3 separate regions of the Homo sapiens genome follow, and regions 2 and 3 are each linked to region 1. Evidence: fine-mapped expression QTL. A gene starts in region 1. Each other region holds a variant in brackets. All regions are shown on one strand. Distances are between the middles of the regions. Region 1 holds the start of LCP2 (lymphocyte cytosolic protein 2). Region 2 overlaps C5orf58 (chromosome 5 open reading frame 58). Region 3 overlaps C5orf58 (chromosome 5 open reading frame 58).

Region 1 (10,160 bases):
CCGAGTTCTGTGCCTTCTAGTGTGGCTGCTGGAGTGGGTGGGCCCCTCTGTCCAGCAGAGCAGTCAGGACCCCTTCCTGGTTCCGCTCGCTCCACTGGACTCTCTCATGTGGTGGAGCCCTTTGCCATCCACAAGGATCCCAGGCATGGAGGGTGCTCCCACTGCCTGCCTTAAGGATGGAGGGGAAAATTGCCCCCTCTCTCTGTGAGGATGACAGCTGCAGCCTTTGCTCCCATGCAGGCCCTCTAGGAAGTTCCAACAGCAAGGGACTTCAGCCTCTGGTGATAAATCTGAGATGTTAAAAAGTTGGTGGGAGTGAGGCTGGGTGGACACGGGCAAGGGCATCCTCAGATTGCCTGTGGTGTCTGTGTCACGTCAGCATCCTCTCTGGGCCACGTGCCACCACCTTATTCTCTCTCCCATGGTCAGGACCCTCTGTCCAAGTCAAATTCAAATAAGCACTTCCTCCCACCCACCTTCTAACTTCTTGTGTTCCTCTCCTAAGAAGGTCAACACATTCTCGTCTGTAAAGTCCCTGCTTTCCATTCTCCCCGTCCCTAAGCATCAACTCCCCAGACCCTTCCCCCAGCCCCACACACAGAAGTTGCAACTCCCAAGTCTCTTCTAAGGAATTGTGCATTTCTCTCGCCTCTAGAATTAGCGGTGAAGGAAGGCAGTTATCTGCCCACATGATTCTGCTGTGGGTCAGATGGAAAGGGAGGGAGCTGGGAGTCTGGACGTGATGGGTGGGGTGGGGAGGAGATTCAGGCGATGCCCTGGGCTGCAGTTTGCTGCTCCCACATCCACTCTCACAATCTGACACAGCCTCCCTGCAGGTACTGCTTTCTTGTCCACAGGCTCCACTGGTTGTGCAGTAAAGGTTCCTATCCCTTGGCCGGACGTGGTTGCTCACACCTGTAATCCTAGCACTTTGGGAGGTCGAGGCAGGCGGATTGCCTGAGCTCAGGAGTTTGAGACCAGCCTGGGCAACAAGGTGAAACTCCATCTCTACTAAAAATACAAAAAATTAGCTGGGCGTGGCGGCATGTGCCTGTAGTCCCAGCTACTCGGGAGGCTGAGGCAGGAGAATTGCTTGGACCTGGGAGGGGGAGGTTGCACTGAGTAGAGAGGGCACCACTGCACTCCAGCCTGGGTGACAGAGTGAGACTCCATCTCCAAAAACAAAAACAAAGAAAAATCATTCCTATTCCATGAGCCCTGTTTCTGTGTAGGAGCAGAATGTTGTCTTTTTTTTTCTTTTTTTTGAGAGGGAGTCTTGCTGTGTCACCCAGGCTGGAGTGCAGTGGTGCCATCTCGGCTCGCTGCAACCTCCGCCTCCCAGGTTCAAGCAATTCTGTCTCAGCCTTCCCAGTAGCTGGGACTATAGGCACTCATGCCACCACGCCTGGCTAATTTTTGTATTTCTCGTAAAGGCAAGGTTTCACCATATGGGTCAGACCAGTCTCGAACTCCTGACCTCAGATTATCCACTCACCTTGGCCTCCCAAAGTGTTGGGATTGACCCACAACGTGACTCACAGGCATGACCCACTGTGCCCAGCCCCTAGAATGTTGTTTTTATTCTGCTCAGAGGTTGTTTACCTTTTCCCAAATCTTGAGCTATGCATCACAAAGCCTAAGAAGGCCTCTGTAACCTCGTTCCTCGTTCGTACCTGCGGAGTTCTCCACCTGGTTGGGGGAGGGAGACAGACATGGGCGAGGGTATCCCCACCACTGCTTCAAATCACTATGCCCTACTGGATCCCCACCCTCTGCTCTGCTTCATGCTTGAAGCCAACAGACAGATGCTGTACACCCAGCTGCTGCCCCTGGCCTCCATGGTCATGGCAGCCACGCTGTCGGGGGCTGTACCCAGAGGCTGCTTTCATGGCCGCCCCATTTTGGAGGTGAGGGGCCTGCGGCTGAGCCTGCACAGGGTCACAGTGGTCCTTCTGGTCTCCTGAGTCTCTCTTGGGGGCTAACTAGCCCGGTCTCTGGAGCTTCAGGAACCCGCCAGCCAGAGACAGGAGATGTGAAACTCGTGAGTGTTGGGAAATCAGCAAGGCCTGGGGAAGAGGAAAGCCTCCAGGCCTGAAGCAACATGCTTCCCCTTGCACCAGCTGCCCTTTCTGAGGAATGGGCCTGTGGTTCTGTGGGGAGGGGGCACCAAGTGCCCGCCTCATGCAGAGTGCTGCATCCTTTACTGAGCTTGTTCAGATTGACAACCTCTCTTTCTCCTCACCAGAGGCCACAGAGAAGAAACTGCGCAGGCTCTGGAGACAGACTGGGTTTGAATCCCAAGTCTACCTTAGGCAGTTTCTGTAACATCTCAGAGCCTCAAGGTGGCAAATGGCCAAGGACAGGGGCTCTGGACTCAGATCAACTTTGGAAGAGTCCTGGATTCACTCCCTACTTGCTGGGTTCAGGGGGCAAGTAGTTCACCTCTTGGAGCCTCAATTTTCTCTTCTGTAGAGTAGGAGCAACAATAGTGCCAACAATTAAGACAGTCAGTAAGAAGTTCTTAGCTTGTGCTCTCTGGACCATAGGAAGAGCTCAAGGCATCGTGTCTCTTTATGTTTCTCAAAGTCACCATTATTGTCATCCAGGTTTCTTAGCTGCTTTGTCTGTCTTCTAAATGAGCTCCATGGATCCTCCATCTTGGCCACATTAATTGGATAATTCTTTCTAAAGGAGCCTAATATTTAGTGATACCTTCATTACAACTGCTTTTTTGTAGATTTTTCTTATCCTGAGTGGGGTGAACATCATTAAGAAAATTAGGCCAGTCTTGGTGGCTTACACCTATAATCCCAGCGCTTTGTAATGCCAAGATGGGAGGGTCGCTTGAGACCAAGAGTTCAAGAACAGCCTGGAAAACAAAGCAAGACTCCATCTCCACAAAAGAGTAAAAATAAAAAAATTAGCCGAGCATGGTGGTGCATGCCTGTACTCCCAGCCACTTGGGAGGCTGAGGTGAGAGGATCACTTGATCCCAGGAGTTCGAGGCTATAGTAAGCTATAATTGTGCCACTGCGTTCCAGGCTGGGCAATAGAGGGAGGCCCCATCTCTAAACATAAAACAAAAGCAAATAAAAAGGAGAAATTAAAATAAAATAAAGTAAAATTGCTTCTACTTTTAAGGATGATCTGGAATGTTCCTTTTCATAGGTGGCATGTGTTTTGAGAGATAGCGAGAGAGAGATTGATTGATCCACGTCAGGAATGCCCTCCCTTTTACTCCATCCTCCACGGCCCTGCTTAAATCCCAGTTAATTCCATGACATCTTCTGTGCTTACTCTACTTCAAAGTGATTTCTCTCTCTCTTTCTCTTCAAATGGCTTTTTATTGTTCACTGCTATGCTAGTGATTTGAAAGACCAGGTGACCTCTCACCCGTGATGGAGCTTTTGTACAGCAGAGCTGTGCTTTATACAGAATGATCAGCTACAAAGAGCTCTTAGGTGCGGCCCAGGCACAATGGCTCACGCCTGTAATCCCAACACTTTGGAAGGCCTAGGCGGGCAGATCACCTGAGGTTGGGAGTTCCAGGCCAGCCTGGCCAACAGGGATAAACCCCGTCTTTACTAAAAATACAAAATTAGCTGGGCGTGGTGGTGCATGCCTGTAATCCCAGCTACTCGGGAGGCTGAGGAAAGAGAATCGCTTGAACCTGGGAGGCAGCGGAGGTTGCAGTGAGCCGAGATGGCACCATTGCACTCCAGCCCGGGCAACAAGAGCGAAACTCCGTCTCAATAAAAAAAAAAAAAAAAAAAGAAAGAAAGAAAGAAAGAGAGAAAAGAAAAGAGTTCTTAGGTGTGAGGCCCTGCAAGGAGCAAATGGCCTGGGCTACCTTCACTGATGCCCTCAGCACCTTCTAAGGTGAGGCTAACACCAGCTCACATTGATGAGCTAGTGCTGGGCCTGGAGCAAAATGTGTATTTCATTTAAGCTGCCCACCAGCTTGTGAGGCAGGTGCATTACCGTGACGGCGGGGCTCCTCAGAGTGTGTATAAGAAGAAAACTGTGCATGGCCAAAGCTATGCTTGAAAACCCTCAGGAAGGCACCACCTCAAGGACCAACATAGCATCACTTAGTAAAGGCAACAGCCTTGGAACAGATGACTCGTGTGTGTGTGTGTGTGTGTGTGTGTGTGTGTGTGGCATTAGATGAAGTAGTAACTTGTGTTTAGAGGTTGCCTTATTGCACAAATATAGTTGCTTTTATACACTGGACTCACCCTCTGCCAATAAGTTGTTCAGTTATGAGAAATGAACAATGTCTGAAACTAAGAAAACAGCAAATTCTCACCTCCTATCTCCAGGGAATGTGCTCTTTGGCTAGAATATATGGCAGAATCAATAGTGAATAAAATATATTGTGGAAACAATAGTGAATGGAATATATGACACTACCAATAGCAATTGTTAAGTTTTTTTTCTTTTTAATTTTTCTTTTTAGGTTTGTCTAGTTGAATGCATCTAAGTTTTATGTGCATATGAAGAATCACTGTTTTCCTATTATACAGATTTGGAAACTGAGATTCCCAGCTTTTAACTCCTTGCCTAAGGTTGCATAGCACAGAAATAGTCATATCAGAAACTGAGCCCTGTCTGCACAGTGTAGCACCTTGTTCAGCCCTGGGTGCCTGACTCACTCACTCCTTGAGGACCCTCTCATGACAACTGTAAAGAGGCAGCTGAAAGAATCCCAGTCTTTGATGGTGGGAGGGGAAAGTGGTTGGAAAGCATTAAAAAAACATGCTCCAGCAGTTCACTGATGTGGGAAATTGTCTGTATTTCAGGTCAACCGTCAGGATAGATTTTGGTCTGCAAAGCCCCAGCTGAGCAAGAATGCAGTGTAGACATATGGGTGCCCAGAGTTTAAAGGAAAATTACTCAGACTCACATTGGAGTTTAAGACCCCTTCATTGCCTCTCCTACTGGGTTGGGGTGACTGGAGCCAGTGGGGAATTACCAACCCTGTGGCTCTCTCTGCATCTCAAGCCTCCAGAGCTGGGCTTCCTTGTTTACTTATTTAGAGCCCAGCAGAGGAAGTGGTAAAGGAAACTAGCTGAGTCGTTTTCTGAGAAGAGACCATATTTGTTCGCAGAGGAAGCCGTTGCTTTCTGGGATCTGGCTACGCCAGAAAAGACATCGGCTCCAACAGGGGTGTTCCACAGGGTAGCTGGGAGTTGGAAGAGCCAAGAACGCCTCCGAGCTCTGGATTTGAGCTTCTCTGCCCATGGGTGAAGCGCCCATGCTCAGCTTGTGAGCTTCTTCCCGGGAGAGCAGCCATGGCACTGAGGAATGTGCCCTTTCGCTCAGAGGTCCTGGGCTGGGACCCCGACAGCCTTGCTGACTATTTCAAGAAGGTAAGCCTTGCTCTTGTGTGAATGGTCATGATGCTAGTGCCCTTGGTGGGCTGAGCTGAGGCTTGACGATGGAATTGGGGCAGAATGTGGGAGGTGTATAAGATAGCAATGGAACCCTATGGCAACTTTACTGGTTGAGTGAGCGCCATATAGACCGCTGAGTTTTCCTGACCATGAGTTCCGGAGAGAAGGATGGGAGCAGAAGCCCTCAAATGAGTATGTGCCTATTATGTGCTAGGGTTTGAATTCGGTGTCTCACAGGCACTGTCCCATTTAGCGCTCCCTACTATGTTGTGAGGTCAGCATTGTTATCCCCTTGACTCAGCTGCAAAATCAGCTCAGGGAAGTGAAATGGTCCGAAGCCCTAGGGACTACATGTGATAGAGGCAAGACTCAAGCCACACCTATCTGGTTTTAAAGTCCATGCTCTGAGATGCAGAGAACTGTTGTAACTGCTAATGAGATCAACGCTACTTACTAGAAAGGGGAGACGTGGTGTCCTGGAGGCAGGAGAAAGAATAGGCAGGGTGGGAGGGCTGGATAGAGGACTATGATGAGCAGTGCCAGACACAGCATTTGGGCTTTCACTGCTCACGACCCTAAGGGGGGTCCTCAAGCTCCCGCCTGGGGCAGTCTCCTTGGAGCCTTATGAGAGTCTTGTGAAGCAGGACAGAAAACTGATGTGAGCCCCAATTTATAGCTATGAAAACTGAGGCCCCTAGAGGAAAAGAGGCTTGTGGCGGTGCTGGGACCAGAGCGTTGCTGTCTTATCTTCTGGACTTAGAGGAAAGGTTGAAGGATCCCTGTGCTTGGTCATTGGCAGAAGGGGACAACGCATCTGCTTGGGCAGATCTCAAGCCACATGACTTAGTTATAGTCCCTCTACCCTGACCATGTGGTAAGATGACTTGTGCGAGACGGTTAAGCTTCTAACACCCTCATCCCTGCAGGCTGGCATCGGATTCTGTTGATATTCCAGACTGTCATAAAGATGAGATTGTAAAGCTAAGATGGTAGAAGTCATCTAATTCAGCTTCGTGTTTTTCCTGGGGAAATTGAGATTCAAGAGGGTAGACGAGGTTCCCTAGGACGTATAGCCAAACCTGGGGTCTATGCATTTCCGAGGCATTTATAGTCACAGCTGTTCTCCCCCAACCTGAAGAAGAAAATGAGAACATGTTGAACTAGGTGTGGTATGGTAGGGGTACAGTTCACAGATCCTGTTTTTTGCCATATTTTGTGCTTTCATTTCTGTTATTTTCCTTCTGCAAGGTCATAATAAACTTAGATTTCAGCAAATATTGTTGCGCAACTGGTTTTTTGAAGGATGTTTCTAAATATCTTGCTCAAATATAGACCAAATAAGATAGGGCAACAAGGTAAAATTTGCCAAGAGGGAATAAAGTGGCATGTTACCTTGATAAGGGAAAAAGAAAGGAATTGAGAATTATGAAGAGAAAGACTTGGGACGGGCTGAGAGGCACAGATAGGCCTAACATTCAGGTGTGACCAGGAGAATTATACAATCCAATTGAGCAACAGAGAATTGATCCCTAAAACTCCCATCAGTACAGGGAGATGGACCACGGGTCAGGGATGGTACAGGAAGACCTCACTGCCTGAGCTGGGGGAAGGGAGAGTTTTCTTCCTGGAGATCTCAGACCCCAGGACAAATCTACAGCACCCAGGCAGGTTCCTTCTTCTGCCATAAATGGACTGAGGGAAGAAACTAGGAGACTGAGGCAAATCTGTGATCCTGGAAGTTCTAGTCCCTCCACAGACTTGGATAGAAACCCTTCAGATTCTGAGTACCTCAGCCCCCTGAAAGAAACTACCAAACGAATGGACCGCAGAGTCATTTGGGAATGGATCTTAGCTGTCAAACATGACATGTAAAGAATTGATCTGCAGATGCAAACTCTACCCAAGTAGTGGGGTCAGGCCTCCCTTGGAGACAGCTCTCGACTCAGCTCTGAGGTCGGACACACTTTACCCTGGCTCTGCCACCTGCTAGCTTGGCGACTTTCCTGTAGTTGCTTTGCCTCTCTGTGCCTCAACTTCCTCATCAGTGAAATAGAGATATGAACAGTAACTAACCCAATGGGTTGGTTGTGAGGATTAAAGCAAATGATGTGTGCAAGGCACTCAGCAGACAAATGGATCCTAATGCGTGTTCCTTCTGCCCTTTTACCTTCTCTATTAACTGGCTCCTAGCTGGGGACACCCATGCAGACTGGTGGGACTTTGCGTCTTCTTGTCTCTGACATGGGTACCTCGTCCTGTGTCTGGAATATAAGCTCCTGAGGACAGAGACCATGTTACATATTTGTTCAATCTCTCCAATTCCTTTTGACTTGCAGGAGAACATCCTTGGGTCGTGCAGTGGAGAGGCACTGGCTCAGAGCTGTGTGTCCTAATCCCAGGTGGGGTCCCAGCTGGTATCCCAGCTCACTGTGTGACCTTAGACCAGCCTCTTTCCCTCTAGAGGCCTCAGTCTTCCTTACTACAAATCCAGGTAACTTTTCTGGACCAGTGCCTACCAATGCTGGATGCCATAGGAATCGTCTAGGGTGCTCCTTAAAAATACAGATTTGAGGTCCACAAGCCTAGATCTTGCTGGAGCAGAATCAAATGCCTGGGTCCCAGTCTGCAGGACTCTCTGCTGATCTAGACACAAAGTTAGCACTCTTCAAAATCATCTGGTTTATCTCATAATGATAACAGTGAGAATGATGAATTAAAGGCAGTTGACTCTTCCAAGAACCACTTACCCCCCACTGCCTGTAGATAAAGGGGATACCAGGGCTCCATAGATGGGATGTGCTTTCAATATCAACTTCTAAGTCAGCTTTCTGAGTGTGATAATCATCCCACCCTTCCAAGCTAAGATTTCATAACAATTGTATTTATTCTTTGGATTTGCTAGCTATAAGATAAAAATATGGCTTAAAATGTGCTCCAAAAGAAGGCTGCCACAAACCATGAGGCCCACCCTTGTGAGAAGAACCTAGGATCCTCAAGGAGAAACATTTAACCTCAAATGCTCCACCCCAAAGCAGCAAGTTGAGAGATACTTCAAATGTGAACATTTATGCTGTTGAGGACAAGTTGAAACTAGCACCTCATATGATTGCTGATTGGTCTAGGAAAATAACCAAGATCTTAAAAATGCTCGTTCCTATGGATCCTATATAACTCGGTTCTGAGGTTCTGACTTAAACAATTTATCTCAAAGAGGGAGAAAAAAGTTCGCAAAATAGTATCCATGATTGTCTCTATTTTGATTGGGATGAGGTACTGCAAACAAATGAAGCTGCATTTTCATTTGCTCATTTTACTTACTGTATATAAGTTATGCTGTAATTAAAAGGGGAATATTTCTGAAAGAGACATTAAAGCCTGTTCTGAAACTTGTCACCTAAAACCCATGGAACCTCATGCAAGTTACTTGCTGTCTGTGCCTCTCATTCCCCATCTGCAAAATGTGAGGGTTAAATGATTGAAGACTAGTTTAACTACTTGGTACACTGCCTGCCACACAGAAAGCTTTCGATAATTGTTCGCCGTTTTTATTATCATTATTGAAACAGCAGCTTGGTAAATAATCTAAATGTTCAGCAATAAGGGCATGATTAAATAATGTTGTGGTCATTAAAATTATTTTAAATTGAGTTTGCATAACACTAGGCAGTGTTTATATTATCCCTTTAGGTAATTTAAGAGAAAAAAGTCAGAATAATGAGATTGAATATAAATCATAACCTCAATTATGTTTAGAAACATGCTAGGAAGAAAGCATGGAAAGAAACACCGAGGTCGTCTCTGGGCATCGAGACAATGGATGGTATTTCTTTTCTTCTTTTAGCTCTCCTTCCTGAGGAGCATAGGGCAGAGCTCTGCATGCCTTGAAGGCAGTCTTTCTGTAAGGGTTGGCCCCGAAGCCTTAGAGCAAGGCAATTTCTCCATTTCAGGCAGTCCCAAGGGGGTAGTGAAAGCGAGGCTGAGGTGGGGACTGGGCCCTCTGTTAGCCAAGGGAGGGCAGTGGGGAGCCTGGCTAGCCACAAGTACCGCAAAGTGCTAAGTTTCTGGGGCAGGCAAGGGAGAGGAACCAATGGTAAGAGACTGCCCGTCACTAACAACACCTTCCCCTTCTCTTTGCAGCTCAACTATAAGGACTGTGAGAAGGCAGTGAAGAAGTACCACATCGATGGGGCTCGCTTCTTGGTAAGCTCTGGCTAGTCCAACACACTGAAACCAAGACTGTTCGGCACTTTTCCCCATGGCTGCAGGGCCAACTGGCCTACCCTTTCCCTGGGGACACCCGAGGATCCCTTTGCTTTTTCCAGAAATTTGGTAGGGCCCCCTCTCTCACTACCTTTCAGGATCCTATCATCCAGAACCCCTCTCTGATCTTCCACTTACACCTTAAGGAGGAATCCAAGTATAGTAAACAAATAATCTGGAAAATCTATTTAAATGCCATCCATCCTTTGAGAAGCCCAAGGGGAAGAAGGACCATATGGGTGAACAGAAGCTTCTCACCTCCAATCTCTCACTCTGGAGCACATACTCATGAGTGGAATAAAGGATGGCATCACCCTCATTGTTTCAATTACTTCCTTCTTTCTCACTACCAAATTCATAAAGCTGATTTTGCATCAAGCACACATGTGATATGGCTGTCTCCACTGTATTATACTTCAAAAAGCTTGAAGTCTAAGACCAAGGTGCAGGTATGTATTAAAGACTAAGCCATTAAAGGGAAAAGGATGCAGCTCTAATGGTGGA
Region 2 (10,160 bases), 58 kb after region 1:
AAGGCTTCAGACGATCAAATTACTCTGAGCTAACGGGAGGACATTCAAACCAAAGGCAAAGAAGTTGAAAACTTTGAAAAAAATTTAGAAGAATGTATAACTAGAATAACCAATACAGAGAAGTGCTTAAAGGAGCTGATGGAGCTGAAAACCAAGGCTCGAGAACTACGTGAAGAATGCAGAAGTCTCAGGAGCCGATGAGATCAACTGGAAGAAAGGGTATCAGCAATGGCAGATGAAATGAATGAAATGAAGCGAGAAGGGAAGTTTAGAGAAAAAAGAATAAAAAGAAATGAGCAAAGCCTCCAAGAAATATGGGACTATGTGAAAAGACCAAATCTACGTCTGATTGGTGTACCTGAAAGTGATGGGGAGAATGGAACCAAGTTGGAAAACACTCTGCAGGATACTATCCAGGAGAACTTCCCCAATCTAGCAAGGCAGGCCAATGTTCAGATTCAGGAAATACAGAGAACGCCACAAAGATACTCCTCGAGAAGAGCAACTCCAAGACACATAATTGTCAGATTCACCAAAGTTGAAATGAAGGAAAAAATGTTAAGGGCAGCCAGAGAGAAAGGTCGGGTTACCCTCAAAGGGAAGCCCATCAGACTAACAGCGGATCTCTTGGCAGAAACCCTACAAGCCAGAAGAGAGTGGGGGCCAATATTCAACATTCTTAAAGAAAAGGATCTTCAACCCAGAATTTCATATCCAGCCAAACTAAGCTTCATAAGTGAAGGAGAAATAAAATACTTTACAGACAAGCAAATGCTGAGAGATTTTGTCACCACCAGGCCTGCCCTAAAAGAGCTCCTGAAGGAAGTGCTAAACATGGAAAGGAACAACTGGTACCAGCCGCTGCAAAATCATGCCAAAATGTAAAGACCATCGAGACTAGGAAGAAACTGCATCAACTAATGAGCAAAATCACCAGCTAACATCATAATGACAGGATCAAATTCACACATAACAATATTAACTTTAAATGTAAATGGACTAAATGCTCCAATTAAAAGACACAGTCTGGCAAATTGGATAAAGAGTCAAGACCCATCAGTGTGCTGTATTCAGGAAACCCATCTCACGTGCAGAGACACACATAGGCTCAAAATAAAAGGATGGAGGAAGATCTACCAAGCAAATGGAAAACAAAAAAAGGCAGGGGTTGCGATCCTAGTCTCTGATAAAACAGACTTTAAACCAACAAAGATCAAAAGAGACAAAGAAGGCCATTACATAATGGTAAAGGGATGTATTCAACAAGAAGAGCTAACTATCCTAAATATATATGCACCCAATACAGGAGCACCCAGATTCATAAAGCAAGTCCTGAGTGACCTACAAAGAGACTTAGACTCCCACACATTAATAATGGGAGACTTTAACACCCCACTGTCAATATTAGACAGATCAATGAGACAGAAAGTCAACAAGGATACCCAGGAATTGAACTCAGCTCTGCACCAAGCGGACCTAATAGACATCTACAGAACTCTCCACCCCAAATCAACAGAATATACATTTTTTTCAGCACCACACCACACCTATTCCAAAATTGACCATATACTTGGAAGTAAAGCTCTCCTCAGCAAATGTAAAAGAACAGAGATTATAACAAACTATCTCTCAGACCACAGTGCAATCAAACTAGAACTCAGGATTAAGAATCTCACTCAAAACCACTCAACTACATGGAAACTGAACAACCTGCTCCTGAATGACTACTGGATACATAACGAAATGAAGGCAGAAATAAAGATGTTCTTTGAAACCAACGAGAACAAAGACACAACATACCAGAATCTCTGGGACGCATTCAAAGCAGTGTGTAGAGGGAAATTTATAGCACTAAATGCCCACAAGAGAAAGCAGGAAAGATCCAAAATTGACACCCTAACATCACAATTAAAAGAACTAGAAAAGCAAGAGCAAACATGTTCAAAAGCTAGCAGAAGGCAAGAAATAACTAAAATCAGAGCAGAACTGAAGGAAATAGAGACACAAAAAACCCTTCAAAAATTAATGAATCCAGGAGCTGGTTTTTTGAAAGGATCAACAAAATTGATAGACCGCTAGCAAGACTAATAAAGAAAAAAAGAGAGAAGAATCCAATAGACACAATAAAAAATGATAAAGGGGATATCACCACCGATCCCACAGAAATACAAACTACCATCAGAGAATACTACAAACACCTCTACGCAAATAAACTAGAAAATCTAGAAGAAATGGATAAATTCCTCGACACATACACTCTCCCAAGACTAAACCAGGAAGAAGTTGAATCTCTGAATAGACCAATAACAGGAGCTGAAATTGGGGCAATAATCAATAGTTTACCAACCAAAAAGAGTCCAGGACCAGATGGATTCACAGCCGAATTCTACCAGAGGTACAAGGAGGAACTGGTACCATTCCTTCTGAAACTATTCCAATCAATAGAAAAAGAGGGAATCCTCCCTAACTCATTTTATGAGGCCAGCATCATTCTGATACCAAAGCCTGGCAGAGACACAACCAAAAAAGAGAATTTTAGACCAATATCCTTGATGAACATTGATGCAAAAATCCTCAATAAAATACTGGCAAAACGAATCCAGCAGCATATCAAAAAGCTTATCCACCATGATCAAGTGGGCTTCATCCCTGGGATGCAAGGCTGGTTCAATATATGCAAATCAATAAATGTAATCCAGCATATAAACAGAGCCAAAGACAAAAACCACATGATTATCTCAATAGATGCAGAAAAAGCCTTTGACAAAATTCAACAACCCTTCATGCTAAAAACTCTCAATAAATTAGGTATTGATGGGATGTAATTCAAAATAATAAGAGCTATCTATGACAAACCCACAGCCAATATCATACTGAATGGGCAAAAACTGGAAGCATTCCCATTGAAAACTGGCACAAGACAGGGATGCCCTCTCTCACCAGTCCTATTCAACATAGTGTTGGAAGTTCTGGCCAGGGCAATTAGGCAGGAGAAGGAAATAAAGGGTATTCAATTAGGAAAAGAGGAAGTCAAATTGTCCCTGTTTGCAGATGACATGATTGTATATCTAGAAAACCCCATCGTCT[C/G]AGCCCAAAATCTCCTTAAGCTGATAAGCAACTTCAGCAAAGTCTCAGGATACAAAATCAATGTACGAAAATCACAAGCATTCTTATACACCAATAACAGACAAACAGAGAGCCAAATCATGAGTGAACTCCCATTCACAATTGCTTCAAAGAGAATAAAATACCTAGGGATCCAACTTACAAGGGATGTGAAGGACCTCTTCAAGGAGAACTACAAACCACTGCTCAAGGAAATAAAAGAGGATACAAAGAAATGGAAGAACATTTCATGCTCATGGGTAGGAAGAATCAATATCGTGAAAATGGCCATACTGCCCAAGGTAATTTATAGATTCAATGCCATCCCCATCAAGCTACCAATGACTTTCTTCACAGAATTGGAAAAAACTACTTTAAAGTTCATATGGAACCAAAAAAAGAGCCCGCATCACCAAGGCAATCCTAAGCCAAAAGAACAAAGCTGGAGGCATCACACTACCTGACTTCAAACTATACTACAAGGCTACACTAACCAAAACAGCATGGTACTGGTACCAAAACAGAGATATAGATCAATGGAACAGAACAGAGCCCTCAGAAATAACGCCGCATATCTACAACTATCTGATCTTTGACAAACCTGAGAAAAACAAGCAATGGGGAAAGGATTCCCTATTTAATAAATGGTGCTGGGAAAACTGGCTAGCCATATGTAGAAAGCTGAAACTGGATCCCTTCCTTACACCTTATACAAAAATCAATTCAAGATGGATTAAAGACTTAAGCGTTAGACCTAAAACCATAAAAACCCTAGAAGAAAACCTAGGCATTACCATTCAGGACATAGGCATGGGCAAGGACTTCACGTCCAAAACACCAAAAGCAATGGCAACAAAAGACAAAATTGACAAATGGGATCTAATTAAACTAAAGAGCTTCTGCACAGCAAAAGAAACTACCATCAGAGTGAACAGGCAACCTACAAAATGGGAGAAAATTTTCACAACCTACTCATCTGACAAAGGGCTAATATCCAGAATCTACAGTGAACTCAAACAAATTTACAAGAAAAAAACAAACAACCCCATCAAAAAGTGGGCGAAGGACATGAACAGACACTTCTCAAAAGAAGACATTTATGCAGCCAAAAACACATGAAAAAATGCTCATCATCACTGGCCATCAGAGAAATGCAAATCAAAACCACAATGAGATACCATCTCACACCAGTTAGAAAGGCAATCATTAAAAAGTCAGGAAACAACAGGTGCTGGAGAGGATGTGGAGAAATAGGAACACTTTTACACTGTTGGTGGGACTGTAAACTAGTTCAACCATTGTGGAAGTCAGTGTGGCGATTCCTCAGGGATCTAGAACTAGAAATACCATTTGACCCAGCCATCCCATTACTGGGTATATACCCAAAGGACTATAAATCATGCTGCTATAAAGACACATGCACACGTATGTTTACTGCGGCATTATTCACAATAGCAAAGACTTGGAACCAACCCAAATGTCCAACAGTGATAGACTGGATTAAGAAAATGTGGCACATATACACCATGGAATACTATGCAGCCATAAAAAATGATGAGTTCATGTCCTTTGTAGGGACATGGATGAAATTGGAAATCATCATTCTCAGTAAACTATCGCAAGAACAAAAAACCAAACACCGCATATTCTCACTTATAGGTGGGAATTGAACAATGAGATCACATGGACACAGGAAGGGGAATATCACACTCTGGGAACTGTGGTGGGGTGGGGGGACGGGGGAGGGATAGCATTGGGAGATACACATAATGCTAGATGACGAGTTAGTGGGTGCAGCGCACCAGCATGGCACATGTATACATATGTAACTAACCTGCACAATGTGCACATGTACCCTAAAACTTAAAGTATAATTAAAAAAAAAATAAGATTTATGTTATTACAAAATAAGCATGACATAAAAACTTACTAAAAGGGTGCTCTTTAGCCCAACTTCTCGGCTATATCACTAAACTGCAACTTGATTTATACAAATTTGATTTATATGGTTTTAACTTATTTTTATCTATGTTATACATGCATATAGTACCAAGAATCAGATAAGTCTAAGGCATGTTACAAAAAAACTGCAGTTCCAATCTCCCAGAGGCAACCATTTTAATTTTTTTTTTTTATAGCTCACTTTGTTTTTGTTGCTTTGGTCATTTCAGTGTGTCTGTTTTGAGTATTTTTATTGTGGGGAGTGGTGGGGTGGTGTTTACCTCTGTAACTTTAAATTTTTTGAGATTTGATTTTTTTTTTTTCAATTTTCAGTGTTACCTGCCTCTGACACAGAAGATTAAGATACAGCTCTTTCACACACCCTCTTCTCTCCCAATATACTTCAGGAAAAATTTTTGCTTAGCTCAATTATCTAATGTTTAAATGTTAATTATACAAATATTCTTCATAGCTGAGTCTTGTCATATGACATTTTCCTTCCTGCACGCAACCCACCAGAGGTAATAATTGGGTTTTTGCATTGCTGCATTATCAGAAATATATCCTAAATGTCCCCCAATTGAGTAAATTTGCTCTTGGGTTATTCAACACCTTAGCTATTCTATTGTTAAACGTCTCTCCTCTCCTGGAGCCTTCTGATTTGCTCCAATCTGAACTGATTGCTTACTAGCACTGCTGTACAGCTGGTATCTTGGGAACTCCCTTCACTAATATCCTAGAGACTCCTTTTATCCCTCCATTCTGTGGAGTGCCCTTTTCCCCAGATTCCTGTGTCTCTCTTTTTGATCTGTTCCCTTGTTTGGTGACATATAGGCTCAGTAACTTCCAGAGGGAATAAAATTATATGTCTGAAAATTTATCTACACTAATCCTTAATTAGGTTGACTAGCTATAGAAATCTAGGTTGGAAATCATATTTTTTTCAGATTTCCAAAGGCACTGCTGCATTGTCTTCTAGGTTCCAGTGAAGCTGGAGTCATATGAGAACTTTCATATGATTGTTTTGTTTTCAGAAGCTTTACAGATCTTTTTGTTCTCTCAGTAGACTGAAATTTCACAACATTCTGCCTTGGTATGAGCCTATTTTCATGCACTGTGGTGGACTCTTTCATTGTAGAAACAAATGCCCTTCAACTCTAGGAAGTTTTCTTTATTTCTTTAATGAATTGCCCTTCATTCCTTGTGTATGTTCTCTCTTTCTAACACTCTTATTTGTTGGATGTTGGACTTCCTTCACTTACCTAATCCTTTTCCTCCCCATCACCAACACTTTCCATCTCTTTTGTTTTGTTTACACTCTAGAGGAATTTCTTCATTTTACCTTTCAACCCTTCTATCGAGTTTTTCATGTCTATGGTCACATTTTTAATTTCCAAGAGCTCCTTCTTGTTCTCTGAATATTTTTTATAGTATGTAGTTCCTTTTTCATGGATACAGTATCTTCTCTTCTCTCTGAATATTAATAATTTCTTGAAATTTTCATCTCCCCTCATTATTTGTTTCTTCCTCATTGAATCTGTTGATTTTTTCTCTGCTTTTTAATATTAGATTTGTCCCTCAAGTATCTGTTGTGCCTTAGTTGCCCATATTTAAGACTGTGACACTAAAAAGACAATTGGAAGTTCTGCACCTGTGGTACTCAATAATGTGGGGTGTTCTGGCTGGGTTATTTTGTTGGGAGAACCTCTGCTATTAGTATCTTTAGATCTTTTATCTTAGGCTGGTCAGATTCCTGAGAGAAAAATCTACTTGGTGGGTATAAATCTGGCTGCCAGTATTTTGGTAGCCCAGTGAAGGAAAAAAAACTGGGGGTCTTGTAATTTTGTAAGTAAACTTTGTTTCAGTGTCCTTCTTTACAGTATACTACTTTCCCTCAACCTATGACTAGTGGTTCCAGGGCAAATATCCTTGTTTTAACCTCAAGTCTTTTGTCACAGTGAAGGGATAGCTGCCCAGCTATGCAGAGGGCAGAAGAGACCTCAGGGATCTACAATTCTTATATATTTAACTAGTCTTCCTATTATCCAAATTTCACCCCTACTTCCAGAAGATCCTGGTGCCACCATGAATTGAGTCGTAGGGGCTATTTTTGGCTTTACCCAGCCAGCTTAGGGTTCAGATTTTTGGGCTTTGGGGTTCAGACTTGTCTATTTGCTTCTCCATTTGCCTTTTGTTTTGTTATCTCTTCTTGGAATCTCTTTACTTGTGGATTTTTGTCTCTTTAAAAATCACTTAAATTTAAATCTCAGGTGTACCACTGACTAGTTGCTTGACCTTGAAAAAGTTAAATCTCTCTATTTACACATCTGTAAATGCCAATGGCAATAGTTCCTACCTCATAGGATTATGATGAAGAGAGTTCATTTATGCAGAGCTCTTAGAAGAGTCCTGGATTATGGTAAATTCTGTAAAGGTTGGCTGCTGACATTACTATTTAGGGGAGGAAGTGAGGGTGCACAGAGTGTTCATTTAATCCTCTACATTTACCAGAAGTCTACCTTCCTAGCGTAGCTCTACAGGTCCCTCAGAGTCTAACTGCCTGACCTACCCATACAATGTCTCAAGAAAACATCTATCACATAGTTATTACATTTTATTTTATGAAAGAATATTCTCCAAACTAGAACAATTAGATAATCAAGTTTGGGGGGAATCTAAAGCTTCTTAACTGTTTTAAATGAGTTCAAGCATCCAGAACCATTTATTCATTTAATAAAAATTTTTTAAGAATCGAATCAATCAAGGCACCGTGTTAAGTACTAGAAATACCCATAAGGAGCTTACAGTTGAGCAGGGATAAGAAAAGTAAGGAAATATGCAATTATAAAATAGTATAACAGGTGATAGCAAAAGGCAGAAAGGATAACATGCTGGCTCAAAAAAAGTTTTCCATTGTAAGAGACCTTGACTACTAGCAGTTAACCTGGTGTGTTGGAGGTAGGGTATAGCAATGGGATTTCAGACAGACAAGTATGTGTTGAAACAGATACAGAAAAGCACTTGTGGAGATATGCAAATAGTTCAGTACAGCTGGAGCATAGAACATGCAGTAAGAACAGAGTAAGAGACTAGAGGGGAAAGGAGGGGAATGATCTGAGCAGGTCATATAGTCCATTCTAAGATGTTTAGACTTTATCCTGAGGACAATGGTGAGCCAATGAGGGTTTTCTGCAGATTCGCATTTTAGAAGGAGAATCTTCACTGTGGTGTTGAAGCTGGTTTTGAGAAATGATGAATTAAAGGTAGTCAGATTTCTTAATATGTACTGTAAATTTGTGAAATATGTAGCATAAAGCACTTTCCAAACTTATTTGGCCATAAGAACATTGACTCTGTTCTACTGTACACCATCTATTAACATTGCTTGAAACAGCAGGGTTCACAGATCAAAGTCCAGGAAATGCTGTCCTAGGGAGAACACATGGAAAAAGCATATTAGGCACTCATTATTTGGTGCCTAACGAACGGCCATGCCCTCTTCTTCTTGGAGTCACAGCTTGATTTTGTTTGAGGTGTTCCTTTCCCCAGCTCCTGTAGTAAGTTCTGAGTGGTCCAAACTGGTCTTGGCAGTCCCAGTCCCCTTAGCTGTGGCTGCTGTAAGCATCAGCATGTGATGCAAATCTGGCCAATGAAAGGGAACTGTGCTGGAGGGATCTGGGAGGAGACTTATAAAAAGAGACTGTCTATATATGAGCACCTCTGAAGGTAATGATCATGAGGGGTAATAAAGAGAGTGAACATGACAGAGCAGAAAGATGGAAAGAGCCTGGTCCCTGACAAAATCTTTAAACCTCTGAATTAACTTTAGGGCTCTGCTACCTTGGATCTTCTTGTTTTTCCTTATTGTATAAGTTAAGTTGGTTTTTTTGTTACTTATAGATGTAGGCCTCATAACTGACACAGGTTATCTTTAAATACCCAAGAGTTGTTTTAAAAAGAATAACTACATATTCAGTGTAGTTTTCATGGTTAGAAATAGGACTCTTAGGTGAAAGCAATAGGGGAACAGATTTCAGCTAGCTGGTGAGAAGGAATTGTTTAAAATAGAATGGATTGACTAGTGAGACAGGAAGTTCCCCAGCATAAGAAATGTTTGGTCAGGGATAGATTATCCCTAGAAATATTCAATCACAGAAATTTTCTTGGGATAAAATAACTGAATATGTCTGTGAGGTGAGCGACTAAACATCATGACCTATAAGGTCTAATCCTACTATATGAATCTGTTTAAAATGAAGAAGCTTTAAGTCACAGAATCTAATTTATACTTTTTAATTTGGAATGGACCTTAGGGGCTTAGTAAGAATTTATAAAGACAATGAATTTTGCTGAATGTGACATAGTCTTGAATGGTGTGTTGAAGGGAAGGAAGGGAAGTAAAATTTACAGAGGTTAGACAACCTGATAAGCTTATTAATGTCAGGGATGGGAATTCAGGTCTGCTAACTCCAAAGTCGAACATAATTCATCTTTAGAGATCTAGTTCACTTACACTGAAAACATTTGTTAAGAAATAGAGAAATCCTAATTAGTGGGCAAAATTTACTTATACCCCAGCAGAAACACAAACTGGCTCTATCATTTATTTTATAACAATGACATGCAAACATTTTAGTGATTCAATACTTACCTTTTATCTTCTTCAACTCCGAAGAAATTGTGTTAATATTTTTAATTACTTTGTCCACATTTAGCTTATGATCAGTAACACGCTTCTTACCCATCTGATTTTAAAAGAAAAACAGAAACAATGTATAAATCAGTATTTATGTGTACTTTTAAAATACTTACATTTTCAGTATTTCTATAAATCTGTTATTTCAGAAATAATTATGAAACAAATCTTTATAAATGGTTAGAATTCTAACATCAAAAGGCATTAATGTGTTATGTAATATTTTTCCAACTAAAAACTCCAACTGGAATTTGTAGGATGAGGTTCCTTCCTCAATCAAACCATATCCACAAGATAGGGCTTACAATGGAAATGAAGATGTCCCCTTTTCAGAAAGCCTCAGCCCTTATAAACTACCTTACAATTTAGCGTTTGTGTTAAGATCTTCTCTAATTTTGTTTATGTAAGTCCATGTCTT
Region 3 (10,160 bases), 48 kb after region 1:
CAGATCTCCAGTTTTATGAGTCTGTGATGGGGCTTATTAATGCAAATAGTTAATTATTTTTGGAACATTAGCTTGATCCAAATTGATCTCTTTTCCCCTAAGACTGCCAGGACACCTGGTCCTCGGTCTTCTCTACTGGTTCTACTGGTTGTTCCAACATCAGAAGGATAAAGTTTGTGCTGTGCATTGCCCAAAAACCTGTCATGACTCCCTTGAGAGTCTAGATATTAAGGGTGGTAGGTGACTGCAATAAAAAAGTGTATGTGCTTCTCTGTTGTAACTTAGAACTCTATGATGCTGGCCTGCAGGTGCAGAGGCAGAAAGAGAATCATTTCTTAACTGTAGAATGGCCATGCAATGCGGGCCTTGGTTCTGTTACTCTCCTGTATTGTTAGGTTTCATTCATTCAACAAGCATTATAAAAGTGCAAGTGTTGGACTGCAAAAAAAATGGGGATGGGGAAGATCTGTCTAGGCACTGGGAACTTGGAGAAGGAAGGCACTGGCAGCTCAGGGCCAGCTTGTTTAGAAACAGGGAAGGAGCATCTTAAACAATCCTGTTGATGTGGCTCAGGAGACTTGTTTAAAAACAGGGAAGGACCATCATAAATAATCTTGATGATGCGGCTCAGGAGGCTTTAGCCCTTACAGGTGACTCTCCTCTCCTCAGTGGTGTAACAAGGTAGACGTAGTGACAATCCGTGGTGTAGAACCACCGGAAGTACTTGCTAACATGCAGATTTCTGAGCCCCAGGTGCTCGCAAGTCGCCCAGGGATTCTGACTCATGCACAGTAGCATTTGGTAACCACAGGTTTAAGTTTTGGCTTTGCCACTGATAGCGCATGATTTGCTTAGCCTCTGAGCCTGTATTTCCCCATATGCAAAATGAAGACAATACCTACCTTGTAATGTTGCTGTGAGGATTAAAAAAAATGTACACACGATACCTTACTCAAGATCTGGACAGAGTTGTGCTGAATAAATATTTGTTGAAGGTATGAATGAATGATGGTTAAATAATTAAGAGAACATTTGACTCACAGAATTTTTCTGTTTTTAACCACAGCCTGGCACATAGAAAATACCCTGGGCAACTGCAATAAACACAACTAAACCTTTCCTGAGATTAGGAAACATTCTCCTAAAGTTTCAAGGAACTGTAAATGAGAAAAAAGAGTTTTAGAGAAGATGAGGCACAAGCACTGGGTAATTAATAGTTGCCCAGTAAAAACTTCCTGATCTGTAGTGCCTTCTATGTGAGTTGAACAGTCTACCTGTTTAGTTAGAACAGCGGGTAGCCAACTTTGATTCTAAAAGCTAGCAATATTCTCAAGGTAATTTTGTCTTCTCTTGGGTCACTTACATTTCTTTTTGTGGAAACATTAAGAACATAATTATCTTCATCATTGCATTGTCCCTACATCAGCTGTTGGGAATCCATTCTGCCTATGATGATATTATAAGAATCTATGAAAAATTTGTCTCTTGAGCATTCATTTTGACGTTCACATTCATTAAAACAATTGCGAATTTTTTTATAAAGGGATCTAGTCACTTTATATTATGTAACATGCACATTTAGAAAAATCACTCAAAGTTGAGGTTCTCTTCTCAAAGTTTTACTGGCATGATTACAGAATAATGCCTGAGCAGCCCCCATGGTTTCAAACAGATGAAAATTATTTTTGAAGCCCTTGTTTCTTAAAATGCGAACTATAGGACCAATCGCAAGGGTATTTTTTTGGGGGAGTGGGGGGAATGTGTTTTGTGTTTTGATAGCAGCAAACAATAGCTTACAGTAAATTAACTGTCAGAATTCTATACTTTTGAAGGCCCTAGCAACAGACCACCTATCAGAGCCGAAGGCAGAAACTTCCCCTTGCCACTTCCAAACAAACCTCGGCCCCCATCCCCCGCGGAGGAAGAGGTAAGAGAGCATGTTTTTATTTTTGTTTGTTTGCCTTTTCCCTGGTAAAAGAATCACCAGAAACTCCCATTGAATGTTCTTCTGTACTTTTATCTTCCCTTTGTTTTATTTTATTTATTTGAAAAAAAAGTTAAAGGAGAAGATCCAGATGAACAATATGTTCTTTTCCCTTGGCGTTCTTTCAGACGCTTTCAATGGCAAACATGTGTTTTGCATTAAACAGCAAGAAAAATAATCCTGTTTTTTATGTTTATGACCTTGATTCGTCACTTAACTGCTCAATAACCCATTTTTTTAATCAAGCAGGTTATTATGCTAAACTGAAGAAATTATTGTATCTGTATCTTTCCTGAAGAGGTTCCATACTGTAAGGAACTCTTATTCACAGGCATTTTTGCAACCAGTGTCATGATAAAAAGCAGTTCGCACAAAATATCTTCTATTTAGCCCCAGCTAAATGACTCTGAATGCAAATTAAGAAAACAAATGTTTCAGACCTCCTGGAATTGAGGTGTTGATTTATGGAAATGATTACTCAGAGGCTTTTCTTTTCACTTACATCTGTAACTGTAAAATTTATTCAGTTTCTAAAAATTTACATTTTCAGAATTCATTAAATGAAGAGTGGTACGTTTCTTATATTACCCGACCAGAGGCAGAAGCTGCTCTTAGAAAGATAAACCAGGTATTGTGCTATAGTTTATTTTAACATAGTTGTAAATATTAATGGCAGAGAAGGGAACTGACCTGTCCTGAGTACCAATTACAGGCTAGGAATTCTGCTAGGTGCTGTTGCTTTCTGTAATACCTAGGAGACCCATTAGTGCCAGCTTCACAACTACCAGCACCCATAGCAGGGATTCCTAGGCTCGGGAATCATTAGGCTGGCAGAAGAATCTCAAGGCAGTCATTTGGTTGGCAGCATCTTAGGAGATTTTATTAATGAAAGAGTCTGTCTTGTCATAGGAATCACATGGTGTCAGAAGGAGACTCTCTTTCAAAGTTCCAACATCGTACCAGTTCTATCTTCCTCTTAACACAGACGTGCCATCCATGTTGATGTGAAAGGACCAATATTAAAGAGATGGCAGCAACTTTTTGCTTTTTGCCCTAGACGTTTCTAGCTAGTCCTTTAATATCATAAAGTCTTAAACATATTTCCCGTAGCCAGTGCCGAAACTTTACCTTAGATTTATTTATCAGAAATGGGAAAGCAAAAATCTTTCATCTTTCACACTTAAACTCCACACCAGTAGTTCTCAGTAGTAGTTGCACATTTAGATCACCCGGAGAACTTTTGAAAAATCCCGATTCCTGGGTCTCACCTTGAGATTCTAATTATTCTGGGGGTGCTGTGTCAGCTCTGGGAGTCTTCAAACTTCCCAGGTAATTCTAATTTGAAGCCAAGACTGTGAATCACTGGTCCAGAAGTATGTTTGTTTAGCAGAGATGTTCTGACAGGCTCAATTAACTTGCAATAAAAGGAACAAAGGAAAGTCATTATTGCCAACTCATGGCTATTTAAAGCTATCCTGATTTGGTATGAGGAGAAGGGAGTAGTTTAAAGGAGTCCTTACCAATTAATTCTATTTTAATATTAGATCTTTACAGTATTAATATTATGTAGCAATAATTTATTGAATGGAAATTTAAAGTACAGGACAATCAAAACAGTAGTTTAGCAAATATCAGAAAAAAGAAAAGAAAAGAGAACATCTGCATTCAATTTTGCTCAAGGGTCTGATGAAGGAAAGACTATCTAGAGATCACAGGGTTTTAAGAAGGGTGAATTTCATGGCATGTGGATGTTTTCTGACTTTGGATGTGGAAAAGAAAGTTTAGGGAATTAACTCACAGGAATACTAGGAAGATATATCTTGAGTTAACCAATAAAGTATTTTATTTCTCCTGGCCTTTTATCCACTCAACCACCCATTATTTATTACTGAACAAAAGATTCCGTTTTTATCAGGAGGCTTTAACGAGATTGACTTGGAAATTTCTTTGATACAATCTCTGTTGCCTTTCTTAATAACAAAATAACTCATGACACATGGGATATGTAGCTGTTTGGAGAACTGAATGTTCGTTGAATGACAGGTTTTGCACTCAAGAAGCTGCAAAGTGCAACTGACATGTTTGTCAGATCCCTAGAGGCTTGTCTACTACTCTTACAAGCAACAAAAATATTGACTTTTACTGCTCCCATAATAACAGGAATTTGTCTTTTTAGGATGGCACATTTCTGGTCAGAGACAGCTCTAAAAAAACAACAACCAATCCATATGTCCTCATGGTGTTGTACAAAGATAAAGTTTACAACATCCAGATCCGTTATCAGAAGGAAAGTCAAGTTTACTTGTTGGGAACTGGACTCCGAGGGAAAGAGGTAAGGATTTCAAATTTCGACATTTTCCCAAAGTCTTTATTTATGCCACTCTGCATGCCTTCATGGAGCGATCTTTGAGAGTCCGTGCTGTATGGCAAATTTAGGATTAAATCACATGAGTGAAGCCCTTCATTTATTGGAAGAGAAATAAAGCAAAATCTTTACAATGGTTACTTCTGCCATAGGATTCTTTCTTGTATATCTTTTCTTTCAAATAATCACATGTATAATTTTCAAAATCAAGAAAAACTATGTTAACTTAAAAAAATCTATTTAGATGGTGTCAAAGGAAAGTTCCCACTATTATTCACCTCTGTGGCATAATTTTAACGTAGGCTGCATTTTAAGTTGACACCACCTGGAAAAGGGGAAAAATTAGAATATTTGCTGGGGTGATTATTCAAATACTTGGCTCATTTCTTAACAAAATGGAGGTTTGGCTCTGTGAGGATGGCCAGATCGCCAAAGAAATTCTCTGTTAGGCCAAGGTTTAGATTCTCATGCCAGTCACTTTTTGAGTGCTAATCAGAACGGATGGAAAGAAACCCTCAGGGCTAGTTTTTCGCAAAGGAAACTAACAACTGAAGGTAACGCCCCAAACATACTCTAAGTTCAAAGTTCCAAGAGGAGGACCAGCTGAATCAAACATGTCCAGAATGAGAAACAGCTTACCCATAACTTCTGCTTCACATACTTCTGTTATGATAATGTTAATGAATAGAAAAAAAATGCATGCTTGTGATCAAATGTTTGAATCGCTGGTTGGCAGTGGATAGAGCTGCACAGACCCTATAGGAGCAGAGGTATTTGCCCTTCAAGATTTATCTTGGTCCAGTGTGGAAACACACAAGTGCAGACCAACCACTCATTGCAGCTCCCATGGAGGGAGGCACCTAGCAGATTAGTCTTAAAGGAAGTGCATTATCCTGTTAGGGTTCCTAGGTGAGTTGTGACCCACATCTAGAAAAATGAGTTAGGCTTTTCCCTCTCTAGCAAGCAATCAAGGCTGGGGCGATCCAGGCTATGGCTGCAAATATTGGTTGCTGAGCCTTTATGAGTGTGAAGGTGGCAGTGAGGACACAGCAGAGAGATCATGAAGGAACTCCTGTGCCATGCTGCAGATCCCACCTCTAGACACCATGAACCGTGTCTGACCTCCTGAGTCCTTATGTTTCCTAACACTATTAATGACTGGGGGTGAAATAGAGATGCAGAAACCAAAACCAAAACCAAAAACAGAGCAACCCGAGGCAAGAATATTGTAATAGTGACTATTTAAATGACCCCTTCATATGAAGTTAAAAATATATGCATTTCAAATTACATATATATATATATAGATATGTAGATATATATATATATATATACACACGCATGCACATATTTTATCTATTTTTTTTTGAGATGGAGTTTCCTTCTTGTTACCCAGGCTGGAGTGCGGCAATGGCGCAATCTCGGCTCACTGCAACCTCTGCCTCCCAGGTTCAAGCAATTCTCCTGCCTCAGCCTCCCAAGCAGCTGGGATTACAGGCGCACACCAGCACGCCCAGCTAATATTTTTCTATTTTCTAGTAGAGACAGGGTTTCACCATGTTGGTCAAGCTGGTCTCAAACTCCTGACCTCAGGTGATCCACCGGCCTTAGCCTCCCAAAGTGCTGGGATTACAGGGGTGAATTACTGCACCCGGCCCATATTTTATCTTTATCTATGGTTTGTTGGATGTTTATGAGGAATTTTTTCAAAGTTCTATAGCAGAAATCATTAAACTAATTGCCACATTTACATTTTTTCCCCCCACAATCCTCATCACTTGAAGAGGCAGCATATATTATGCAGATAAAAAAACTGAAAGTGAAGTTCCTGCTTTTCATTCCAATGTTGACTCATCTCCCTATCTTGACTCTTTCAGGACTTTCTGTCTGTGTCAGATATTATTGACTACTTCAGGAAAATGCCACTTCTGCTCATTGATGGGAAAAACCGAGGTTCCAGATACCAGTGCACATTAACGCATGCTGCAGGGTACCCATAGCAAGTTATAGCCGAGCAAATGAACCGTCCTCCTGCCTCTGTTGCCAACACGAGATCAATCAGCCTTGGTCAATGGACAAACACTTAGGACTGAACTGAACCCCTCCCCATGAACACAAGGGTTTTATCCTTTCCTTTAAAAACAGTGTTTGAAATGAAGACTGTCAACTATCCCATAATTTATTTATTCTTCTTCAATGTTTGTAAAGTGCATGAGTCATGTTCACACTTGAAGTCTAGTAGTGCACTGTAATAATTCATTTTTTAAAAGATTATTTAATGCCCATTTCAAAATACAGTAGTTTACACAGCTACAGAAACAATTTGGGGCAAGTTTTAAAACACTGAAACAGTAATAGTTATTGGTGTCACATAAAACTGATTTGTTTTTTACAGCCAAACCTCTGTCAGTCAGAGGCATTCATTAGTTTTATACATGTAATTTGAAAATCACTAAACCTCGTTTTCTCAGCAGCAATAATTTAAGAGGCTTCAAAAATATAATTTCACTCTTATTTAGTATTTTTTCCTGGGGG[C/G]ATTTTTACGTAATTTTTTTATGAAAAGACAAATGCATGTTGAGATAACTTCTGGGATTAAAATAGTCTTTTGCTTTACTTTTTTGGTTTCCTAAAACAACTTTATTGACTTTTAGTCCATACTGTTATATTTTTGTCTTAAAGAAAATTTAAACTACAAATACCAAAAGAAAACATTTTAAATTTAGGGATGAGACTTTGGTGTATCGTGGGTCTAGGTTTAATGAACACATCTGGGGTTAAGTTGGCATTTCTTCACATCTCCACACCCACACCAACCATCACAGCCCCCCACCAACCTTCTCCCAACCCCAAAAGCATTGTCCAGGGATATAGATTTTACCAAAGGCTTCCTGGGAAGACGAGGGAGCAACACTTTAGATTAAATGTGATCAGACTTTCCTATTAGATATGGCTCTTCTGTCTCTTGTTATCCCCCTGACAGCTCTGCCATAAAGTCCCTTCTCCTCATCCTTCCCAAACAGGCTGTATAAGTGCTTTGAGGTAATTAAACTCTTTCCTCCAGTTTACAAATATCACTTAACAAAAAATATAGGCATTCAGCCAGATTAAAAAACTGGTATTCAGCCAAATAGTGACAATCAGTTGTTCTTCAAGTTTTTCCCTTTGGGACCTTGGTTGTTATTGCACAACTTTTATTAGCAACAATTTTTGGCGTCTCTGCTTAATCTACAAGTTTTCGAAATGGAAAAGAGTATCTTGCAGCTTCATTTTCATGAGCTAATAAAAGGGGTATTGGAAGGAATCTAAGAAGTCACCATTTTAAAACTGATGATATGTTAAAATAAGGAGTATGCAGAAGGTAGAGACTTTTAACTGATGATAAAAATGGTGTTTCACAAAATCTCATCCTTAACAACCAGAAGTTCTCAGTTTAGGGTCCAAAACTTGGGAGTTTAAGGCTGAAAACCCTGCATTCATTTACACGTCTACACAACGGGCTATTCAGCAAGTATTTACTTAGTGGCTCTTCTGTGTTAAACAAGTGAGCTAGGTACAAGGTAGTAAGGATAGCATACACCATAGGTTCTAGTATCGAGTAAGCTCCACTTGTCTTGCTTTGCCGTATTCTATCTTTACAATTCAAAAATATCTAAAATGAAGGACCTGATAGATTTCAAAGCAACTATTTGGTAGCGAATCATGTTTATAAAACAAACCAAAGCTCATTTTAAGTCTATTAGTGGAAAGTGCCATCAGGATTAAGATGTTCTGTTCCATGGCTATGACTGAAATCAATGTTGGGAAGCTAATGTTTTCATGACTAGCATTCTCTCTCTGTTCAAGCACCGACAACTCCTTTTGGCTGGGCCTTGCCTCTTTTGGCCACAGACCTTCTATATGACCCCAGGTGCATCAGTCACAGTTGCTCAGAACCCTGCTCAGTGATAAACATCTTACTAAAGCTGGGTCAATCAGGGTCACTCTCTGGAATGTTAAACATGAAGCCTGAGACAAGATCTCTCTTTTATCTGGGGTCCCCAAAGGCAATGCTGTACACTTGGAGCTGCCTGCTGCCCTGCAACTACTCCCATTTACCAATTATCTGGAAGAACCAGTCTACAATAGAAGACAACGAGGCCAACACACAAAAACACAGTAAAAGTATGGACAAATTAGTGGGATCCCTGAAATCTATTCCAACTATGTGCTTCCAAGTCACATGACTCAATAAATGCTTCAGCTGGTTGAGTTGTGCTTGGCGTTCACTACCAGGAGAGTTCTGATTAATAAAAACTCATTCCATCAATTAATAATTTAGTAGCTCTCTTTCAACCTGAGCCAAATTCAAGCATAAGCTAAAGGATAAGCAGTGACCCATGGCCAATTTCCTATGTCATACACTTGCCATTAGTGACGTAAGTTAAGCCATTCTTCAAAACATTAAACAGCCTTCAAGAACATGAACTGCTTGTTTACATTATTTTTATTTTGTTTTAAATTATATATATACAAATTAGTAAACTCAACTCTCCCAAATATTTGTTAGTTCAACAATAAAACAGAAACTCATAACAAATAAGAAATCAGATAGAAAAACTGTTAGAAACAAGGGATACATCTGATATTTTAGACTCTTCAAAGAGGGGGTTGTTTCTTTCTGCTTCTGCTAAGTTCTCAGTCTTGATGGGATGATTAAAATGTAGGATAAGGTCACAAAGCAATAACTGGGAGAGCTCTGTGCAAAACAAAACAGGAGATATTATATTGTAGCACATATGTCATAAAAAACTATTATTGCTTTAAGTAGCTATTTCTTCCTAATTCCTAATTTCCAAGTGATTAGTGATCAAACCACAACTTAAGTGTGTCCCATTCTGACTTAAAATAAGATTTATGCTCTCGAGGAGCCAAGATGGCTGAATAGGAACAGCTCCGGTCTACAGCTCCCAGCGTGAGCGACGCAGAAGACAGGTGATTTCTGCATTTCCATCTGAGGTACCGGGTTCATCTCACTAGGGAGTGCCAGACAGTGGGCGCAGGTCAGTGGGTGCGCGCACGGTGTGCGAGCCGAAGCAGGGCGAGGCATTGCCTCACTTGGGAAGTGCAAGGGGTCAGGGAGTTCCCTTTCCGAGTCAAAGAAAGGGGTGACGGACGCACCTGGAAAATCGGGTCACTCCCACCTGAATATTGCGCTTTTCAGACCGGCTTAAAAAACGGCGCACCACGAGATTATATCCCGCACCTGGCTTGGAAGGTCCTACGCCCACGGAGTCTCGCTGATTGCTAGCACAGCAGTCTGAGATCAAACTGCAAGGCAGCAGCGAGGCTGGGGGAGGGGCGCCCACCATTGCCCAGGCTTGATTAGGTAAACAAAGCAGCTGGGAAGCTCGAACTGGGTGGAGCCCACCACAGCTCAAAGAGGCCTGCCTGCCTCTGTAGGCTCCACCTCTGGGGGCAGGGCACAGACAAACAAAAAGACAGCAGTAACCTCTGCAGACTTAAATGTCCCTGTCTGACAGCTTTGAAGAGAGCAGTGGTTCTCCCAGCACGCAGCTGGAGATCTGAGAACGGGCAGACTGCCTCCTCAAGTGGGTCCCTGACCCCTGACCCGGCTAACTGGGAGGCACCCCCCAGCAGGGGCACACTGACACCTCACACGGCAGGGTATTCTAACAGACCTGCAGCTGAGGGTCCTGTGTGTCAGAAGGAAAACTAACAAACAGAAAGGACATCCACACCAAAAACCCATCTGTACATCACCATCATCAAAGACCAAAAGTAGATAAAACCACAAAGATGGGGAAAAAACAG

The links. PIP is the estimated chance that this variant, and not a neighbour inherited with it, causes the effect.
Region 2: its variant is the best candidate, but not a certain one, in a credible set for the expression of LCP2 in tibial artery (GTEx, PIP 0.76).
Region 3: its variant is the best candidate, but not a certain one, in a credible set for the expression of LCP2 in whole blood (TOPMed, PIP 0.76).

What each region holds. Positions count from the first base shown.
Region 1 is chr5:170,292,746-170,302,905 of GRCh38, reverse strand. It overlaps LCP2 (lymphocyte cytosolic protein 2), which reads left to right and starts at 5,129. Exons shown (of 21, transcript NM_005565.5): 1 at 5,129-5,372; 2 at 9,534-9,596. The coding sequence starts at 5,295. RefSeq lists an enhancer at 5,947-6,026.
Region 2 is chr5:170,234,608-170,244,767 of GRCh38, reverse strand. C5orf58 (chromosome 5 open reading frame 58) reads right to left here. Exons shown (of 4, transcript NM_001102609.3): 3 at 9,698-9,791. The coding sequence starts at 9,791. Among named protein-coding and RNA genes, the nearest start is that of C5orf58, 6.7 kb to the right of the region's middle. The variant C/G (reference allele first, on the strand shown) is at 3,088.
Region 3 is chr5:170,244,886-170,255,045 of GRCh38, reverse strand. It overlaps C5orf58 (chromosome 5 open reading frame 58), which reads right to left. Exons shown (of 4, transcript NM_001102609.3): 4 at 8,815-9,084. The coding sequence ends at 8,933. LCP2 (lymphocyte cytosolic protein 2) reads left to right here. Exons shown (of 21, transcript NM_005565.5): 18 at 1,833-1,927; 19 at 2,535-2,612; 20 at 4,161-4,316; 21 at 6,227-8,813. The coding sequence ends at 6,349. Among named protein-coding and RNA genes, the nearest start is that of C5orf58, 17 kb to the right of the region's middle. The variant C/G (reference allele first, on the strand shown) is at 6,885.